Linked DNA regions of Homo sapiens: region 2 is linked to region 1. A link means that fine-mapping ties the variant in region 1 to the expression of a gene that starts in the linked region. Tissue or cell type: left ventricle. Region 1 holds a variant in brackets; the other region holds the start of a gene. All regions are shown on one strand. Distances are from middle to middle.

Region 1 (8,108 bases):
CTGGAAATACAGATTTGGAAGTCACCCCATATCAGTGGTGTTTAAAATCAAGAGCAAATGAAATTGCACAAGGAGAATATATAGAATGAACAAATTACCATGGGTGAAGCCTTGAGTAATACAGACATTTAAGAAGCAAACAAAAGACAAGGAACCCATGAGGGAGACTGGAAAGGAAAAAACAGAGAAATAAGAAAAAATGAGAGGAGAGAATTGATACATTTTCCTCAGGTGTGGCATTATGGAGTTCACTGGTGTCTCATCAGAGAAGTTTCAGTCCAGTGGCCAGGGCAGAATGACATTGTGTCTTGTTTTAAAGTAAATGGGTAGGGTAAGAAAGTTGAGAAGGGTTAGCACAAACCTCTCTTTCAAGTCACTTGCCTTAGAAGAGAAGGAAGGGTATGGTTTCTGGGGTGCAACCCAGGTTCAAGAAGCAAAAAGAAAAAAAAATTCATTTGATAAAAGATTTAAATGGGTTTCTGGGCTTAGAGGAAAGAGTAAATAGGCACTGAGAATTTAAAGATTTAGGAAGTAAAGGGGATAATTAATGGAGCTCGGTCCTGGGAGTGCTGAAAAGGGGGGCCATGTGTGGAGGGCAGGGCAGGATCTTGACCTGGAGTAAGAATACCTCATCCTGTCATTGAAAGAAAGTGCACAAGGACAGGTCCAGGCATATCTAAGAAGGGGAGGGGAACAATATTGGGATAATGTATGTATAATTCTCTTATTGAAGTAGAAAATGATGTCATCTGCAGAGAAGGATGTAGCCTTGTTTGGGCTCTTGAGCAATATGACAGTTTGGTAACATTGCTTAGTAAAATAAGAGCAAGCTAAGCAAGAATGAGTAGGAGGTTGAGCCACGTTGATGGCCTATTTGAGATTGAGGACTGCAGATTTATATAGTTGCGTCAATCTGAAAGCTGACTTTTTTTTCCAGCTGAGCTCAACAGATTGGTCACAGAAATACAGAAGTCTACGTTTGAATTGATTCTAAAGATATTAGTGAAAGAATGGTTGAAGTAATGAGCCGTGCTATCCCAACTGGGTAAAGCAGTGAGGCCAGGAAAGAGGTCAAGGAACTATGGTTTTCCAGAGATTGGAGAGCAGAGGTAGTAAGGGCAAAGGCACGGGGAGCCTGGAAGGATCAGAGATTGTGGTCATCTTCACATAATGGATAGGAAGCAGCCCCACTAGATAATTAGTTGCAGGGTTTGACCTTGGAAATCTGTGACCATGGAGATGAAGAAGGTGAGGAATTTATAGTTTATTGGATGGCTTGTCTAGATGGATACTGAAGTCACTCATTGTCACAAAGGGTATGTTAAAGATTGTTGCCAAGTGCCCTAGTCATGAATAAGTGTTATGGAGGGACCAGGATATTAGCAGGGGGACATCAATGAGAAAAGATAATTGGATAATATGAAATTCAACAAATGAGGCTGTTACATCAGAGGCATTAGGGAGTAATGGTTTAGAAGCATTATAAAAAGGAATAATCAGTTAGGCATTGGCTTAAAATTTGGATAAGCCATATAAACTTGTTGATATTTGAGTATTTTGACATATAAAAATAGTAATTTCATATGGTTCAACCTCATACTTTGCGTGCATTAAATCATTCATTCTCACAACTACCTTCTGAAATGGGTTATCATTTTGCAGCTGAGAAAGTGAAGGCATAGAAATAATAAGTAATTTGCCCAAAGTCATCTGATAAGTTTTGGAGCTCAGTTTCAGACCCAGGCAGTCTGGCTTTAGAGGCTGCAATCACTCTGAATAGGGAATGCCCACCTTACCCTCACTGCCCTTCAGGCCTTCTGGTGTGTGAGGTGGATGAGACCAAACTCCTCTTAAGCATGTAATAACTGAGATAAATGCTGTAAAGGAAATGAATGTGGTTCACTAGTCAGTTTTGAAGTCTCATTCTCACATACTCTGTGCTTCCCCACCCTATTTGTGTTCGCTTTCACTCCCAAACTACTTCTACCTAATTGCAGAACACTTTCTCTACATTTTGCCTAACTGAAACCTAGCATATCCCTGCTTTCCTTGTAGTTTACTAGTAGATAAGTAGGAAAATAGTTCTAGACCTTGCATGTACAGGGTCACAAGAGTTTAAAAAGAGCAAGGAAAACCATTCAGTAAATGACAAGACATTCTGTATATGGGATATGAACTGGGCTGGGAGAGAGGTAGAGTACTTAAGAGAGCGTGCTACGATAGACCTCAAAGGACTTTTTACCATTCTAAAGACCTTAAACATTATACTATCTGCTACAGCCAGCCACAGAAAGATTTTAAGAAGCAAAATGTTGTGAGGATATTATAGATAAATGTTGGTGTGGATGCAATTAAAGGGAAAAAGACTAGAGGTGGGAAGATGGGTTAGGAAGCTGTTGCAGTCATTCATGTGAAGGAATAGGGCTTGGCAGTGCTCCTACCTGTGTGATTGAAGAGGAGGGGCTGTATTCACAAGATATTTAACAGCAAGGATTGGCAGGTTTTGGTGTCTCTTAAGAGAATATGGGGGCTGGGCGTGGTGGCTCACGCCTGTAATCCCAGCACTTTGGGAGGCCAAGGCGGGCGGATCACTAGGTCAGGAGATCGAGACCATCCTGGCTAACATGGTGAAACCCCGTCTCTACTAAAAATACAAAAAATAATTAGCCGGGCCTGGTGGCAGATGCCTGTAGTCCCAGCTACTCGGGAGGCTGAGGCAGGAGAATGGCGTGAACCCGGGGCGCGGAGCTTGCAGTGAGCCAAGATCGTGCCACTGCCCACCAGCCTGGGTGACAGAGCCCATCTCAAAAAAAAAAAAAAAAGAGAATATGGGATGCTGGAACCCATAAGTGAGATCACCACACAAGGAAAGAAGTCCATTTGAAAGGAGAGATGAGGAGTCCTCTTTTCTACATGTTGAATATGAGATGTCTGTAGAATCTGGGTAGAAATACTGGTATGGGACTCAGGAATGAGGTCTCACAGGAGATGCAGATGAAAATATGTTAGTATTGCTTAACCTCTCTAAGCCTCACTTCCAAAATTCCCACTTCCTCCATCAGCTTTTGTCTTGTAGCCACTCCCTGATCTAAGTTGGTACCAGAGTATAGGGACAGAGACCTGAGTGAACTGTGGCTTTAGACCTGCTTTCATCAGGACCTCACACTGTGGACTCACAGGAGTCTGTATGGTAGGGTCTAGGATACACACGGAACCTCAAACTTCTGAAAGGAGTCCTCTCCCTGCAACACCATTCCCATAAAAGAGAACAGAGTCGGTTCCTAGCTTGAATGAATGAATGAATAATGACGTTGGGGCCTCTGGATATAGATCATTCTAAAAAGCACCTATATACTCTTTTGGTAGGATTTGGTACAGGTAGGATTATGTAAACCTGGTTGCTGACCTAGATATATGTAGTCTTGTTGGGAAACATGGATTAGTCATAAAATTAGCACACTGACATGGAGTATAGTCAGCAAATGGATAAGATGGTTAAGTATCTATAATATAGTTTGACTAAGCAGTTAAGTGAATCAGTACGAATATTATTGAGAGGAACCTGGTTCTGACAGATATAAGGTAGTGATATTGCAGACATATAAAAATATAGACTGATATGCAAAGTGTGGGGAAAGATGTCATTCAAACCAGTCTTTTTATGGGCTTAATAAATTTGATAAGGGAATAGGAAGAAAGCTAGTCATCTCTTTCCCTTAGGTTGAAATAAACTTGACCCAATAGAGTACCCTAGTTTTGTTCATTTGCCGAATTGACTTAGATGCCAGGGATTTGCATGTGGAAAACTAATGCCATGGCAGGATTACTAGACTGTAAATTCATTAAGAAGTCTGATGATATCATAAACCGTGAGAAGCCTCTGTCTTGCAGCAGCATCGGAAACGTCCCCGTCCCCATTTGAGTAAGTGCTGGTAATCCATTTTATTTCTCTCCATTAGTTATTATAATAATAACAGATTGGTGACACGGCCTCATTTTCTGCCTCTAGTGCTGTCTGCTGCTGGGCACAGCTGCTCCCAGTCATTCTTTCCAGAGTAAATAACGGTTCATGTTTCCATGGGCTGTCGCGAGAGCTTTCTGTGCTTATGAAATGAGCCCATGTCACCACCCTGTTGGGAAAGATTGAAGG[C/T]ATGGGCAAAGCCAAGGAACTGCATGGGAAAGCCAGAGCTTTACCCCTACCCTAAGATATGTTTTTTGCTCTTGAAGACATTTAGATTAACTGGGTGTTAATGATGTTAACTTCCATAAGTGTGAGGCAAGAAAATTCCATCACTTGGCATCTGTCTGATGCAGGCCTTTGGCTTTGGAACTTTTTCTTTCATGTTAGATGTAAATAATGAACTCCTTTGTTGTGAGAGGGTTTGTTACAAGGAAGTAAACACATCAGCAAAGAGCATCTTTTGATCTTCACACCTTTGGCAATAAAAGCTGAGAGCAGAAATAGGCCAGAGAATTTGGGACAGAAACCACTAAAAGCTCCCCTTTTATCTGTTCACAAAATTAGGTGCAGAACTATAGGAACAATGGATGGAATGACAATTATTAAAAAAGATGAAGGGCAAAATGAGGCCACCTGAATAATAAAAGCCAAGGTTTAGATTTTATGATCTGCTTTAAAACTCAGTGAATTCTCTGAAAAACTAGGAGCATTATATAGAAACATCATAAACAAAATGAATAAAAATTTTTTTTCTCTTCTTGTGATCTCATTAGTGGATGTTAACAAATTTTAAATATTCATTTGAGAATACATGTTATAAGAACACTGATTTTCTGTGTGTGTATGCAAAATTGCAAAAACTGGTATGTTTTAATGCCTTAATTATGTGACTCTTGTCTCATGATCATTAATTCAATCCTCTTCTAAACATCAAACCACATATTCATATAAAATAGAAATCTAAAATATGCAGTTATAAATACATATGAAAATTCCTCTGTCTTTTTTTTCCTTATTTTGAAAGTTTAAGCTTTATTGCCAGGTTTTATTGGTAGAAAACTAATGTTGCTTTATTTCATGAAAGTTATCAACATCCTCCCTTCAGATCTTATAGAATTTATACTCACATCCTATAGGTAAGTAAATAGATTGAGGAGGAAAACCACTTCTGTAAGAAGAATAATAAACACACTTCAAACTTGATGAAAAATAAATGGATCTGCACTCAAAAACCTATTTAAGCTCACTTTTTTCCCCCAGTTTGGGTAGCTTTATAATGAAGGCAGAGATTGGGATGCAGGTATCATGTTAGATGTTAAATACCTCTATTCCTAGGCCTGGTGTTTGTTGTTGGTGGTGGGTGGAGGGATGGTTGCTCTAAGTTTTAGGTGTTCTTGATAGACAATATATAATTGATAAATAACTTTTCAAAGATCTTGCATTGTTTTCTGTTTTATCCCACTGTTTCCTGTAACCCACAGTTCCAAATAGCTGGCTGAATTGCTGTGTGATAAAAGGAAATCTGAGACTAAGTACCAATTCCTTCCAAGTTTAAGAACAAGAAGGTTTTCTGAATATTTTTCAGAGGCAGACTGGGGAACTATGTTTCTTTTTAATGGTCTTTTAATTTGAAAGTTAAACTAAATCCTTCTAATTGCTTGTAGGTATTGGACAATATGAGTATTTCCATTGGATAACATGGAGAGGACAATTTATCATTGAAGGACTTGTCGTTTTTATCTTAGCTGAATAGGGTGCCAGTATATACAGTTCGTGCTTTCAAGCACGGGTTGATTTATTATGGTTTGGACCTGCAGTTTTTAGAAGGGATCACAACAGGATTTTTCTTTGTAAGTTTAGTAAAGCCCATTTCTTACCTTGTTGACTGTCACTATCAGGTCAAAAAACTTAGAAAGCAGGAATAAAAACTCATTATTTGGGCTGGGCGCAGTGGCTCACGCCTGTAATCACAGCACTTTGGGAGGCCGAGGCAGGTGGATCACCTGAGGTCAGGAGTTCAAGACCAGCCTGACCAACATGGAGAAACCCCGTCTCTACTAAAAATACAAAATTAGCCGGGTGGTGGTGTGTGCCTGTAATCCCAGCTACTCGGGAGGCTGAGGCAGGAGAATCACTTGAACCCAGGAGGCGGAGGTTGTGATGAGCCAAGGTCATGCCATTGCACTCCAGCCTGAGTAACAAGAGCGAAACTCCATCTCAAAACAACAACAACAACAACAACAACAAAAACTCATGTTTGGAGTGGAAAAAACCTGTTGTTTGATGACATGTAGTTAAAATTCATTTACTTATATTCAAATAAAGATAATAATTTAGTCCTTAGGAGATGAACATTTCCATATTCTCTTTCCTACCCCTTGGCATGGGCTCTTGTGTTTGCCATACCAGGTGGATTCAGTCCAAACTCTGTAAACCTGGGCGTGTTATTTGATCTTTTTGAATGTGCAAAGCTAGAAAATAATACCATTTTCACAAGTTCATTAAGACACATTTATGACAAAAGATCAACAGTCATTAATTACAGTTAATAACTCTGAGTGACTGCTAATGTTCCAGGAACTATACTGAGCATCTTAGATTATCTAGATTAAGCCCAGTGAAGTACCTTTCACCTAGCAGGCATTCAACTTCCACCTGCTTCTGTTCCTCCCCGCTCCAATCTACCAGATTCCTCAGGTGAAAGGAATTTCTATTTGTTCACATATTACTTCATCCTTCATTCATGCATCCATTCAACAAATACATACTAAACTCCTTCTAGTTCGAGGAACTGTTGTAAGTGCTGTGGATATAGCAATGACCAGGAGAGACACAGTTCCAATGGTCAAATGTTCTAGTGCAGGAGACTGACAACAGACAGGCAGTGAATTCAAGGAGTTCAAGACCAGCTTGACCAACATGGTGAAACTCTGTCTCTGCTAAAAATACAAAAATTAGCTGAGTATGGTGGCGGGCGCCTGTAATCCCAGCTACTCGGGAGGCTGAGGCAGGAGAATTGCTTGAACCCGGGAGGCAGACGTTGCAGTGAGCCGAGGTCACACCATTGCACTCCAGCCTGCAAATGAGACTCCGTCTCAAAAAAAAAAAAAATTGATACTTCATGTGGAAATAAGTGCTATGAAAAAGAGAAACTAGGGTAAACAACAGAACTGAGAAACACAGAGGAAGAGAGCGTTCTGTTTTAGACTGGTCTAGGAAAGGGACATCTCAGCAAAGTCCTGAGTATATACTCATATCAAGGTCATTCTAATAGTGACATTCTTACTCAAATTGAAAAGTCGTGTATATGTTGAGTTGTAGAAGGAAAGTTTAGAACAATCAACAGCATCCATTATTGCATATTTTCTTTGGGCTAGCAAGCAAACAGTAATAAAATGTCTCTTTTTGTTGTTGTTGTTAGAGTCACGCTCTGTTGTCCAGGCTGGAGTGCAGTGGCACCATCTTGGCTCACTGCAACCTCCGCCTCCTGGGTTCAAGCGATTCTCCTGCCTCAGCCTCCCAAGTAGCTGGGACTACAGGCATGTGCCACTATGCCCAGCTAATTTTTGTATTTTTAGTAGAGACGAGGTTTCGCCATGTTTTCCAGGCTGGTCTCGAACTTTTGACCTCAGGTGGTTCGCCCGCCTCAGCCTCCCAAAGTACTCATAAGCCACCGCACCTGGCCCAGTGTCTCTTTTAATAGATATAAAGCACTTAGAAGGTGGAACATAGTAAGTCCATATAGTGTATGCTGCTATTAGTCTACTTGAGGAGAGTAAAAAGATACTGTGGCCCATATGCTACGCGTTCCTGCTTATAACCAAATAATTATATAGAATTCATACATAAAGAATAAAATTGGATAGGGATGTCTATTTTTATTGGATGTTGTAAGTAAGTTATTAAACTGTGTCCAAAAGAAATTCATAGATATCATGAACTTAGAAACAGTAACCCCCCAAGAGAATTGCAGCCAAACTACTACTAGTAGGACCCATGGTGGACCTGCATGTTACTTCAGTAACTGGCAGTCTAGTCCAGTGGTTTTTCTTTCACCACATTGAAGATACCACTTTATTTTCTCGTGGCTTGCATGATTTGCAGCAAGAAGTTTGCCATAATTTTTATCTTTGTTCCTCTGCATATG
Region 2 (8,108 bases), 160 kb before region 1:
TACTATTGTTACCCTAGTGCAGTGACTGTGGGTTATTTTGGGGACACAGACCACATTGGGAGTGTATGAAGGTCATGGGGCAGATGGGAAATCACTTACTAGTAACTCAGCAAGTTACTTAATTTTCTGTGCCTTAGTTTCACCATCTATAAAATGGAAAGAAAAACAGTATAAACCTGGAGCAGATGCTTTTTATGCCCCTTAGCTCATTTTGAAATTGGCTCAGCCATGGAGGAAAGTTCTGGGCACACTGTCATTATCCCACCTCAAGTGAGCTGAGGTATACTGCTCTACTCTTCTGCCTCAGGGCTTTCTCCAACAGCAGCACAGCCTGGGAATATCTGCCAATTCATAACCCTGGCAACAACCCTCACTCAATGGTAGATGACAGTCAGTGGATAAGTGTCCTAGCCTTCTGTCCTTTTGAAGATGCTATGTTGTCTGGGGTGTATACCCTGGGGTTCATCGTTGTGCACCAGAAAAATTTAGGACCTGGGCACACACGAGGAGTTTAGGAGCGTACATTTAACAGGCAGAAGAGAAGAAAAAGAGGTCTCTTCTTTATATAGAGAAAGGGGTCTCCAAGCAGAAAAGACTGGCTGGTGGCGGAAAGTGCCGAATTTTCTAGTCCAGTTTGAGGAGGTGGTGTCTGATTTACATAGGGCTCACAGATTGGTTCGACCAGGTATGATGTTTTCATAGCACACGGGGAAGGCTGGTCACTCCACCCTAATCTTATTATGCAAATGGACTTTCCAGTTGATCAGTGCCATCTTGCCTGCTCCTTGCAGTACACGTGGCTGGCAGAGAAGGGAAAACGGAGGCGCCATTTGAACATGTCTAGTCCTTAGTTCCTGCCAGCATTCATTCGTGTAAGCTCCCAGCTTGCAGGCTGCTCTTTGTTAGAAAATTATTTGGGGCTGCTTTTCATTAAAAAGAAAAGCCTTACTGAGGACTCCCATACCCTTACTATGTGTCTAAGTAATTTCTTCTTAACTCCTGTATCACTTTGTGAGGCTAATTCTGGGGTATATCCTATTTTTTTCAGAGGGTCTTCAAGAGGATAAAGAGCCAGTCATTGTCTACATCAAAACCAGTTTAATATCAATCCTCCTTCTTTGTCTCATTCTCTCTGCCTTTATTCCTGCATCCTGGTATCACCTCCCAAATAAACTATTTGCACCCAAGCCTTTGTCACAGGCTCTGCTTTGAGGGGAACCCTAAGTAGGCAGTTGATTTTATCAGTTGGGGTCCTACCATGCAAAAGATGACCCATTTAAGCTGGAAAACTGAAAATAATTTAGTAAGGGGAGTATTTCTGAACATGAGGTCAGGTTAGGGAAATGAAACGTGGTGTAGAACCCCAGGACTAGTAATGGTGGGGAGCAGTTACCACTCCTAAGTCTGAAGAGACAAAGGCAAGTTACTAGACTCAGAAGAAAGAATTGAGGAGAGCTGCTGAACTAGAGCTGTGGCCTTCAGTAAAGGGACCAGCGTCAGGACTCAAGTGAGACAAGCATTCTCAGGTCGGTGTCAGTGTCAGCCTGAGAGTGACTGCCTCCTTAAATCTGGTATCCTAGGTCTCTGCTTGCCTCACCCTAGTCCCAGCACAGTATCTCATGGAGTTATGATTAAATGAATTAAGATATAAGAGGCATAGAGAGGTACATACAACATGCTATTGTTGATATTGTTACTACCATTATTGTCTACATGATGCAAAAGTTTGAATGCATTATGATGGTTCCTGAAGTACACTTATAGGCTGGGCTTATTGACTAAGAACCTCTGCACTGATTAAGACCTTTTCATTGTGTGGTGAGCATTCACGAAACAGCCTTCAAACTTTATCGCTCTCTTACTAATTCAGTTTTTGCCAACCTTTCACATCATGGCATCCATAGAAAATGGTAATATCTGTACAACACTAGAGTGAAAAGATGATGATACCCTCAACCTGAGGCAACTGCCCCAAGGTCACTGCTTCCTCCAAAGACTGCAGGGGTCAGTCTTCAGCCCACCCATGCCAGGTGGGAAGCTCTGCTCAAATCCATTATTCATCCTGCACAGTAATACCAATTTAGCTTTCCTAAAACAATACTTCCATCATGTCCTTTGCCTCTAATAACAACGACAAAAATCCAGAATTCTTGGTCTGATACTCAAGATTAAGGCATGGAGTTGGAAGAGACCACAGGAATCATGAAATTGCTCCCCTTTATTTTACAGACTCACAAAGAAATGCCCAGCAAAGTTTAATAACTTATTCAAAGCAACATTGCAATCTTTCTGCCAAGGAACTATCATTTACCCTATCCATTTTTGCCGACAGACATCCATTGTCAAGTGCTACCTCCCAGTTCGCCCCATTGGGAAATGAATGCTTCCTCCTTTAAACTCTAATAATACTCATTCAGATACTGAACAGTAAGAGGGAGCAGAAAAAGACCTAATAGTTATTTCAGCCTGAGCTTCCCTGTGTTAGATGATATGATCAGATACTGGAGAGTACGGTTTTACAATACACTGATTTATAAACCAGGATGCCTATTCACTAATAACCAATTCACTAATAACAGAACAAACAGAACAGAAATGGATGCTACAACTTAGGTTGGCTATTCAATATAATCTGGGGTCAGTAAACTTTTTTCTGTAAAGTTAGAGCAAATATATGAGGGAATAGTAATAAATAGTAAATATATGAGGGCTACAGTCTCTGCTGCATATTTTTCTTTACGTTTTTGTTGTTGTCGTTGTTGTTTTGTTCTGTTTCTTACAATGCTTTAAAAATGTAAAAAATGGCTGGACACAGTGGCTTAGGCCTCTAATACCAACACTTTGGCAGGCTGGAGTGGGAGGACTGCTTGAAGCCAGGTGTTAAAGACCAGCCTGGGCAGCAAAATGAGACGCCATATCTACAAAAAACAAAAACAACAACAAAATAACCAAGAATGGTGGCATGTGCCTGTAGTCCCAGCTACTCGGGAGGCTGAGGCGAGGTGGAATATAATGTAAGACCATTCATAGTTCATGGTACAAAACAGGTATCAATTCCCATTAATGCATAGACACTCCATAATTTAGTATTGCCAGACTTCTTTTTTTTTTTTTTTTTTTTTTTTTTGAGACCGAGTTTCGCTTTTGTCAACCAGGCTGGAGTGTAATGGCACCATCTCGGCTCACCGCAACCTCCACTTCCCGGGTTTAAGCAATTCGCCTACCTCAGACTCTCAAGTAGCTGGAATTACAGGCGCCTGCCACCATGCCCGGCTAATTTTTGTATTTTTAGTAGAGATGGGTTTCGCCATTTTGGCCAGGCTGGTCTGGAATTCTTGACCTCAGGTGATTCACCCACCTCGGCCTCCCAAAGCGTTGGGATTACAGGCTTGAGCCACCGCGCCCGGCCCATACTTCTTAATTTTGTGATTTATTGCCTGAAAAACGGTCTCGCTGTGGTGTTTTTTTTGTATTTCCCAGATTAATAATCAGACTGAATTCTTTTCATGTTTATTAGCCATAGCAACTCCTCTTCCACACTGGCATTTCTTATCTTTTTCAAAAATCTATTAATCACGAAAATCTCGTCATCTACATTTCTTCACAAAAGCCATATTACTTTTGATCTTTATAGATTATTTTACATTTGCCATATTTATACATAATATCTTCCCTTTTGGGGCATTTAGAGTGTGCGGACAAAGTCTAGGCAGTAATGCATTTATAAAACATCTATGAGTTGGGTGCACACGGGGTAATTTTCCACATATGGCTAATCCTAGCCTCATCAGATTAAGTTTCCCTGTCTTGTCATTTCCGAGGATGTATCCTATTAGAAGTCTAGCCCTTTATTCCTACAAATTGAATTTCCACTACTGTAGGCTAACATCTGAATGGACTCATCTTACTATTCCATGCATAGTACCAGGCACGTTGCGTGCTTTTACTACATTTTGTATAATTTTTACGTCTGTGTTTGATGTCCTGAAAAATACCGTCCACAATTACTTCACAGCTAGCCCCAGCACTTGGCGCCCAGCGGGTTTTCCTAGTCCCTCCCTGCCAAATCACGTTGGGACTGAGACAAGAGGCACTGCGGGTCTCTTACCTATAGTTACGAAGCAATGGACTCCCTTATTACTTCGTTTCCCAAATAGGGGGTGGGACACACAACCGAGGGAGTATGAGGAAAACAACTTGCGGGTCTTCGAGCCACTTGCGTCTTTCTGTGGGCGAGCCTTTCCAGGCCAATTACATTTTCTTTACTCATATTGCATAAATAGCAGAACTACATTTACCACAAAGGCCCGACATTCATGGTCATGGATCCTTGCGCATGTTTTCTAAGAGCAAACTGTACAAACACATAAACTCTGAAACACTGACGCACAAGCGAAAACACACGCACATGTTTGGGTCTTCTCCCGCTGCGCAAGTTCTTTGAAACTGAGCGGAGAAAAATCGTCTTCACATGGTGTCTCACACTTTCGACACAATCTTATCGGGAAACGTAACACGTAAACAAAATTTTTTAAAATGCATTATCAAAAACGATGACAATCCCTTTCGTCTTATGTTCCTTTTTGTCTTTAAGCTTTGGGGGGATTTATGTTGCGTTTCCAAACTGCTTCTGCCTGTCGGCGCCTGTGTGGAAACTGCGACGAGTCTGGGAGCGGCTGCCGGAGAGGCGGGGCAGAGGTGTGACGTCATCGCCGCGGGGCGGAGGCGACAGTGTCTAGCGGGAGCTCCGCGTGTAGCTACGCCGGCCGCCTGGCTTTGAGACAACGTGATTCTCCGCAGCTGGTCGCCTACCCGTGATGTTCTGCCCACGTCGAGACCTGAGCTGAAATGGCAGACGATCTCGGAGACGAGTGGTGGGAGAACCAGCCGACTGGAGCAGGCAGCAGCCCAGGTACCCACTCTGTGCCCGCGCTCCTACGGGGCCTCTCCCGGAGCCCTTCCGTGCGCCTCAGCCCTGGTCGCTTCTGGCGATCGCGGTGTTTGCCCAGCAGGGGTGTGCACCGCCTTGGGAGCGCGCAAGCATCTCGGGGAAAATGGTGCAAGAGATTCTTTAACACGTGAAACAGACAGCTGTGACATTAACTCAGATCTGTCTGCCAGCCAGGAAGGATCCTTTCCACAAGCTTTCTCTTTTCCTTATTTCTTGAGAATGGATAAGACAGTTTTTGTGAAGAGAGGCAACTTTGTATGATGGTTAAGGGTGACCCATGAACTGCTTTCAATTCAGACTGAGGTCAGAAGCAGGGGTTGCTGCTTCAGACTCCCTCCATTCAAATCACGACTCCAGTATTCTGATACTGTTTAGCCTCCTTTTCCTCATCTGTAAAATAATGATAACAATAATGTCCATTTCGTAAAGTTGTGAAGATTAAGTGAAGTTAGTACAGTAATGCACTTTAGCATAGTGCTTGACATATAATGTGTGGTAAATATAAGTTACTGTATTTCTTGTGGTCATCATCATTATCATGGAATTTGGAATAGTAGAACTGGAAGGAGGCTTAAATAGAGATCATCCTTTGAACTCACTTATTTTACAGATGAGAAACATAACCTAAAGATGTCAAGTAACTTGACAAGTTCACAAAGCTAGCTCCTTTCAGAAACAATACTAGAATTCAGTTAACACAATTTGAATAGTTTCTACTATGCTCTGCTGTGTTTACCAACTCCTGATGCAGTGGGCATTTCATCCCCAAGTAGAGTAGCGTTAAGTGACCCCCCATGTCAGGCTAGCCTTGAACTTTTTAAGTTCCATCACACCTACCATGCAATTATTGGTTGGTTGGTTTTTATCACTCCTCAAGGTCTGCCTCTTTTCTCTACAAGAGAAGACAGGGCCAAAGTCAGATTCATACTTCTGTCATCCACAGGGCCCTGCACATGTTAGACACTTGATACCTATTTGCTGCAAACAATCTTGAAATACTAGTTGTGAAATATCCATTAAAAATAACCAACTTCATTTGTTGCATTGTTTCCGGAAGGTCAAGCCTTCAGGTACAAACTAAGCAGATGTCATTTTTAGAAAGGTAGCCAATACAACATTTCCTTGATTAAACTTCCTGACTCTTTTGCAGCCCTGTGGTGTTCCACATTTACTTTAATAACTACCCCTCCCAACTCAGGTGTTAAAAAGCTCTATTTTATGATATGATTGAAGATGAACAGAGGCCATTTAAGAAATAGTTGAATTCTGTTTGAGTGGTGAAGGGGATCCCAATTCTTGGTTCTAGTCCTCACTAGCTGTGTGACTTTCAAGTTATTCATCCGTTGGAAGAAAGGCAGTCAACATGTATTGAGTATCTATTATGTGACAAATGTCTTCATAAATATGAATTGATTTAACTTTCATAACATCCCGAAAAGGTAAGTATTCTCTTCATTTGTATAGGTGAAGAAACAGAAAAAAGTTAAGTCGTGTTCTTAGGAACACACATTGAAGAAGAGGTCTGGGAAGAGTTTAGTCAAGTGTGATTGATTTTGAAAGTCACGCTTTTCCCGCTACTACTTTGTGACTTCTCTGGGCCTTTGTATCATAATCTGTAAAGAGCCCTTAAAGATCATCTTTTTTAGGGTTTTACCAACCAACAGTTTTTTTTTTCTTTTTTTTTTTTTTTGACACGGAGTCTCCCTCTGTCGCCCAGGCTGGAGTGCAGTGGCACGATCTCGGCTCACTGCAACCTCTGCCTCCTGGGTTCAAGCGATTCTCCTGCCTCAGCCTCCCAAGTAACTGGGATTACAGGTGCCCGCCACCACACCCAGCTAATTTTTGTATTTTTAGTAGAGACGGGGTTTCACCATGTTGGCCAGGCTGGTCTTGATCTCTTGACCTCGTGATCTGCCCACCTCGGCCTCCCAAAGTGCTGGGATTACAGGCGTGAGCCACCGTGCCTGGCCCCCAACAGTTTTAAACACTGAATCTAGTAAAACTTTAAATCGCTACAGCCTCCTTCATCTAAGTTGCCAGAATTCTCATGAAGACAGTGTGTTGGAGTGCCTAAGATTGCTCTACTTCTTACATTCCTTCTAGCCATAAGACTAACCCTTTTTTTTTTTTTGAGACGAAGTCTCACTCTTGTCCCCCAGTCTGGAGTACAGTGGTGCGATCTCAGTTCACTGCAACCTCCACCTCCTGGGTTCAAGCGATTCTCCTGCCTCAGCCTCCCGAGTAGTTGGGATTACAGGAGCCTGCCACCACCCCCAGCTAATTTTTGTATTTTTAGTAGAGATGGGGTTTCACCATGTTGGCCAGGCTGGTCTTGAGCTCCTGACCTGAAGTGATCTGCTCGCCTTGGCCTCCCAAAGTGCTGGGATTACAGGTGTGAATCACCGCACCCGGCCAAGACTAAGCTTTGAAAATTGCTGGCATTAAATTTATCAGAGGCCTTTGCTTTGTTCGCTGCTCTTAAGCAAAGTAAGTATATGCCTTTATTTGAAATATCCTTGATTATTCACTGGCAATTTGCCTAATTGTAATCTGTACAGCGTTTCTAATTCAAAAGAAATCACAGCTGAACCACAGATTTCCTGATTCTTCTTTTGTTGATGGGATCTAGCCTTGATCCTAGAGCACAAGGCTTACTTACCTGGCTGCCTTCTTGAAGTCTTTACTTAAGTTATTTGATAGGGATGTCAAATGTATTCAATTGTTGTTTCAGCCTAAAGTATGTGAATTATGTTTTGTTTTGAAAGTTGAAGGAGAAATAATATGTTAAATCAGAGAAAGGAAAGATAGTTGTATTGGTGCTTTTATTCCTGTTGTGGATTATGCTACCTGCCTATAAAAATAAACATTTTTGCTATAATCTGTTCCCACTTGACATCCATGGTAGCAAGGCAGTGGAAGATTTCAGTCACTTACAAATACTTGTTGGTTGTACATGGTTTATAACATCTATCTAATGTGCCTATCTGTTTGTTGTCTGTCTAAGGAACTGTACTATTTTTTGGCTGTTATCATGTCTTCTTAGATGTGGTATGTAACAAAGTTTTCATGGCTCTTTAAAACCTGTCATTTTTGTGCTAGAGTTCTACATTGCACTGGAGCTCAACATGGGACCTGGCACTTAATTGGTGTTTGGTGG

The links. PIP is the estimated chance that this variant, and not a neighbour inherited with it, causes the effect.
Region 2: it holds the start of CMSS1, and the variant in region 1 is fine-mapped to the expression of CMSS1 in left ventricle (GTEx, PIP 0.99).

Annotation. Positions count from the first base shown.
Region 1 is chr3:99,968,528-99,976,635 of GRCh38, forward strand. The region is part of intron 1 of CMSS1 (cms1 ribosomal small subunit homolog); the gene reads left to right. The region is part of intron 1 of FILIP1L (filamin A interacting protein 1 like); the gene reads right to left. The region is part of intron 1 of LOC105374010 (a long non-coding RNA gene); the gene reads left to right. Among named protein-coding and RNA genes, the nearest start is that of MIR3921, 8.2 kb to the left of the region's middle. The variant C/T (reference allele first, on the strand shown) is at 4,151.
Region 2 is chr3:99,813,132-99,821,239 of GRCh38, forward strand. CMSS1 (cms1 ribosomal small subunit homolog) reads left to right here and starts at 4,731. Exons shown (of 10, transcript NM_032359.4): 1 at 4,731-4,912. The coding sequence starts at 4,849. HP09053 (a long non-coding RNA gene) reads right to left here. Exons shown (of 3, transcript NR_110821.1): 2 at 5,789-5,843; 3 at 3,501-5,341. LOC105374010 (a long non-coding RNA gene) reads left to right here and starts at 4,731. Exons shown (of 5, transcript NR_189163.1): 1 at 4,731-4,912. RefSeq lists a silencer at 4,412-5,166 and enhancers at 4,582-5,456, 4,688-4,997.